2 separate regions of the Homo sapiens genome follow, and region 2 is linked to region 1. The links come from fine-mapping of genetic effects on gene expression. Tissue or cell type: thyroid. Region 1 holds a variant in brackets; the other region holds the start of a gene. All regions are shown on one strand. Distances are between the middles of the regions.

Region 1 (2,760 bases):
AACTTCCCATCTGTCACTAGGTTTCCAGGTTGTATATTTTGTTCTCAAACACATTAACTACTATTTTATTATTTAATGATATTTTGGTATCCTAACCCCCCTATGAACTTTGTGACAACACTATGTCACTGAGAAATCTTTGAATACAAGGTTATTAATATATAAGATGTAACAAAATATGTGTTTCAGGTAAATAATTTCATAGACCGGGCGTAGTGGTTCACACCTGTAATCCTAGCACTTTGGGAGGCCGAGGCGGGCGAATCACTTGAGGTCAGGAGCTCAAGACCAGCCTGGCCAACATGGTGAAACCTCGTCTCTACTAAAAATACAAAAATTAGCTGGACGTGCTCGCTTAAACCCAGGAGGCGGAGGTTGCAGTGAGCCAAGGTCGTGTCACTGCACTCCAACCTTGGTGACAGAACAAGACTCTCTCTCAAAAAAAAAAGTTTCATAAAAGTGTCTGCAGTGGAGGGGAATATATATACACATATCTATGTATTTGTGTGTCTATATATATTCATACATATATATAGGGTCAAAAAACTTTTACAGCTGGGTGCAGTGGCTCATGCCTATAATCCCAGCACTTTGGGAGGCCGAGGCAGGAAGGTCACTTGAGCCCAGGAATTTGAGACCCGCCTGGACGATATGGTGAGACCTCATCTCTACAAAAAGTATAAAAATTATCCAGGCGTGGTGTCTTGTACTTGTAGTCCCAGCTGTTCCTGAGCCTAAGGCAGGAGGATCATTTAAGCCCAAAAGGTCAAGCCCTCAGTGAGCTGTGATCACACCACTGCACTCCAGCCTGGGCAAGAGAGCAAGACCCTGTCTCAAAAAAAAAGAAAAAAAGAAAAGAAAAGAAAAAGAAAAACTGTTTTTCCTCTGTTCTCACATGACAACAATCAATACAGAAGACTTCTGTGACCAAATGTGTAGGGTGTAGGGATTTTCCCCACCAACAGGCAAGCAATTCTGCAGTGGACACCAGCCAGGAATCTTCTGATCCAATTCAATTCTGATGCTGTCCACCTGGATATAGCATCAGATACCACAGGTTGAGGGCTCAGACCCACAGGACTGCCCCCACTTCAGACACCAGCTCCCAAGTACAGGCCTCTGGAACTTCTGACTGACTGACTTCAAGTTGGGGTTCCCATGACCCCCTCTTTAGGCTCAATTGTTAGAGCAGCTTGCAAAACTCCGGGAAACGCCCACTTACACTTACCAGTTTCTTATGAAGGATATTTTGAAGGATACGAATAAACACCCAGATGAAGAGGCACATAGGGCGAGGTCTGGAAGGGTCCTGAGCACGGGAGCTTCTATTCCCGTGGAGTTGGGGTGCACCATCATCCCAACACATGGGTGAATTCTTGTTCACCTTCCTGCAAGCCTTCACCAGCTCAGCTGTCCAGAAGTTCTGCGTACCTGGTCCTCTTGGGCCTTTTATGGAGACTTCATTGGATAGGCATGACTGAAGCATGGACAACCGTGTCAAAATGTGATTGGATCGCTTCTCGGCCTTTTGGCTAAGATCAAGTGCAAAACGTGATTGGGCAAAAAGGGCATGATCTAATGCTAATAGACGGAGTGGGGAATCCTAGCAAGGCCTGT[C/CTGTT]CAGATTCCTGTTGGCCTCTCTGCACGGCACTCCTTCCTCCTGGGTTGAGGGCAGGACCCTTTCTAAAATGAGGATCTTATGACCTACAATCAGACAAGGTAGGTCAGAGAATTTCTTTATGACCGGCTCCAAATACAAAGGTGGGGGCAGATTATATTTTCAGTTTCTATGGCCTGCCTTGGAGAGACAAAGGAGCAGGTGAAAAAGGAGAGTATGAGAAGGTCAGCGGGAGAGGCTGTTTTCTGAGCCCTGCTTCTGAGGCCTACAGCACCCGCACATTAAAACCAAAGATGGTCTTTTCCTTTGATCGCTCTGAAGCACTTCCAAAGCTGCTTCAGGAACCAAGGACTAAAGGACGAACACTTTAACAAAAGATATGCTTATTGCTTAATCACTTGGGAAATAATAAGGGCTATGGGAGTTATGAGCCAGGAACCATGGACAAAAAGCTATATATATATAATGATATCACATATATATAATGATATCACATAGATATACATATGTATATATACACACACAGATGCTTCTATAAACTCATATTTTTTACCTAGCTTTTCAACAGAAAAGAAAATGTTTATCATAGTTACTATGTATTTAGTTTCATATAGCAAAGTAATTTTTACCAATCCTATTACTAAATAACAATTTTAGCATAATATTGTACATTTATGTAAAATGCTAAAAATATATTTTATTTATTTATTTTGAGAGGGGCTGGAGTGCAGCAGCACAATCTCGGCTCACTGCAGCCTCTGCTTCCCAGGTTCAAGTAATTCTGCCTCAGCCTCCCAAGTAGCTGGGATTACAGGCAAGCACTACCATGTCTGGCTAATTTTTGTATGTTTAGTAGAGGCAGGGTTTCACCATGTTGGCCAGGCTGACCTCAAGTGAATGGCCCGCCTCAGCCTCCCAAAGTGCTGGGATTACAGGCATGAGCCACCGTGCCCAGCCCAAAAATATATTTTAAAAGAGCCTCCTTCCTGAGTCTTAAACTTACAATTTTTTTTAATTAACAAATTCAAAAGCCAACTCGAACACCCAAATTCACCTAAATCGTATATTTGTTCACACAAAAAACATTTATTACCTAAATATGTGCAAGGGACTTTGCTAGACAATAGGAATAAAAAGATCTGATA
Region 2 (2,500 bases), 360 kb before region 1:
CGCCGCAGGTCTATCCCGGGGCCGAAGCCGGCGCCCGCCTTCTCGGGGAATTCTCCGGAGGGGGAGTGCGAGGGGAACCACGGTGACTGCCTGCTAGCTCACGGCTGGCGCGCACACGCACACGCCCAACTTTGCCAAGCCGTCGGCGCCCCGCGGGCTCCCCCGCGCCCCCTGCGGCTCAACACGCTCGGAGACCTGTATCTCTCCTGCTCTGAGATAAGGTTCCCTCCACTCTCACACCTTCGCATGTAGGGGAGGAGAGGGCGGAGTGAGGCAGAGAAGGGGGTTAATGCTACTGACTCCCTGGCCAGCCTTTCTCAAACACTCTACGCCCGCAGGGGCGCCCGCGCCAGCCACGCCGCACCAGGTCCCCCAGACCTGCTGGTGACGACAGAGAGAGGAGGAGGAAGAGAAGGCAGGGCGAAGAACCGGGAGCCGGGGAGCCCCGGAGCTCGGGAGCCCGGGAGCCCAGGCGACGGACAGTTCCATCGACTGACCGTCATTATCAGCACTTTTATTACTAAAGGACTGGGTGGGAGGTTGGGGGGTGTGCAACAGAGCTGGCCAGCCCCAATCCACTCTGGAGCGACCCTAAATTAGAGCCACAGAGAAAGATTCTCCACGGATACCTTTTGAGTGGACGTGCTCCAGACACACACCCGGACCCCGTGGTCCCGCCGAAGCTGCAGTGTTGGGGGTATTTTAAACGGTTCTTATTTGGAAGGAGGCGTGATTTCCACGTTCGAGCGTCTTCGCTCCCCACCCCCTCTCGGCACCAGCCAGTGCGCGCCACCACCTGAGCCTGGCGAGAGCCGGGACGCACGCAGTCTTCAGCCTGCTCCTTTAAGCCTCTGGAGAGACTCGGCTCTGAGCGGGTCCGCCCGACACCCGCCCCCTCCCCCCACTCCTGAGAACTCTTTACTTTTTGTTTGGAAAATCGGGGCCATTTCTTTATTTATCTCTGGGTCTTCCCGGAGGAGGGCAGAGAAGGGGAGAGCGAGCTTGGCGGGCCGGACCGGGGGAGGGGAGCGAAGGGAGGGGAGGGGACTGGGTGTAGCCTGGAATTCTCCGTCCTCGTGTTCCTGGGCGGGCGCGCAGAGTCTCCTGGCGATAGCGCCGTCGCCGCTCCCCGCGCCACCCCGTCGTTGGCCTTGGGGGTCGGGTGAGTGGGGTCATGACGAGCCGCGGGGGCTGCCCCGGGCCCCGCCCGCGCTGAGAGGGGACGCGGCCGCGCGGCGCGGAGCCCCCCTGGCGGGGAGGCCGCGGGGGGTGGGGAGGGCGCACGCGGTAGGGCGGAGTGGGGGCGGCGCAGAGGCCGCCAAGCTGGGGGGCTCTCCGGGAGGGCGCGGCCGCGGGCAGGAGGGCGTGTCTCCGGCTCGAGGGGACCCTCCCGAGGCGCGGCGCGGGACTCCCCGATGGTGGTGCCGCGGCTCCGGGAGAGCTCAGGGTCTCGCCGCCGCCGCCGTCGCCGCCGCCGCGGGCGCCGCTGCCGCCGCCGCCGCCGCCGCCGCCGCCGCCGCCCGAACCCGCGCCGAGCGTGCGCCTCGCCCTCCTCCCGCGCCCGCTCTGCTCTAGGATGCTGCGGCAGGTTCTGCACAGGGGCTTGAGGACGTGTTTCTCCCGGCTCGGCCACTTCATTGCCAGTCACCCTGTCTTCTTCGCCTCGGCGCCGGTGCTCATCTCCATCCTGCTCGGCGCCAGCTTCAGCCGCTACCAGGTCGAGGAGAGCGTGGAGCACCTGCTGGCGCCCCAGCACAGCCTGGCCAAGATCGAGCGCAACCTCGTTAACAGCCTCTTCCCGGTCAACCGCTCCAAGCACCGTCTCTACTCGGACCTGCAGACCCCCGGGCGCTACGGCCGGGTCATCGTCACCTCCTTCCAGAAAGCCAACATGCTGGACCAGCATCACACCGACCTGATCTTAAAGGTGAGAGGGGACGGGTGCGGGCAGACTCCGCCAGCGCCGCGGCCGCGGTCGGGCTGGCTCTGCGCTGGGGTCCCGGCTGAGAGCGCCACCTCTCCTAGCCCAGGCAGCTGCCGCAGGGACTCTCCTGCACCGCGCGCCCCAGGGCGGCCGACTGGAGCCTCCCAGCCTCCTGGACAAGGAGCGTCGGGGTCCGGGTCCGGCCCTGCCCGCGTCGCCTCTACCGCCACCCCGCAGCTGCTGCAACAGTTGGGGCGGCGGCGGCCACAGTGCTGTGGTCGGTGCGCTTGTTTTGGTCGCAGTGGGCTTGGGGGTGGGGAGGCTTTGGGGTAACTGGGCCAGCAAGGAGCAGAACGAGAGAAGACATTCTGGAAAGTCCTACTACTTGAGAACAAAATACTATGCTTGGAGGGGATTCCGAGATACCCCTCCCTGTCCTCAGTTTTGTTTCTCCCTTTTTCTGGCCCCCCGGAGTGTTTGGGGAACGGTTGTTGGTGTGGGATGTTGGGAAAGGACAAAAGAATGTGAGGCGGGATGGTGATGAAGATGCCTCCCACCCACCCAGAAAGAAGTGTG

Direction of the effects. Positions count from the first base shown, and alleles are read on the strand shown. Sizes are in standard deviations (SD) of each study's normalised expression.
For the expression in thyroid of the gene that starts at base 1,550 in region 2, allele CTGTT in region 1 goes with a higher level than allele C (moderate effect, 0.69 SD a copy in GTEx).

Evidence for each region. PIP is the estimated chance that this variant, and not a neighbour inherited with it, causes the effect.
Region 2: it holds the start of PTCHD1, and the variant in region 1 is fine-mapped to the expression of PTCHD1 in thyroid (GTEx, PIP above 0.99).

The regions. Positions count from the first base shown.
Region 1 is chrX:23,690,805-23,693,564 of GRCh38, forward strand. No RefSeq gene overlaps it. Among named protein-coding and RNA genes, the nearest start is that of PRDX4, 25 kb to the left of the region's middle. The variant C/CTGTT (reference allele first, on the strand shown) is at 1,618.
Region 2 is chrX:23,333,300-23,335,799 of GRCh38, forward strand. PTCHD1 (patched domain containing 1) reads left to right here and starts at 1,550. Exons shown (of 3, transcript NM_173495.3): 1 at 1,550-1,927. The coding sequence starts at 1,577.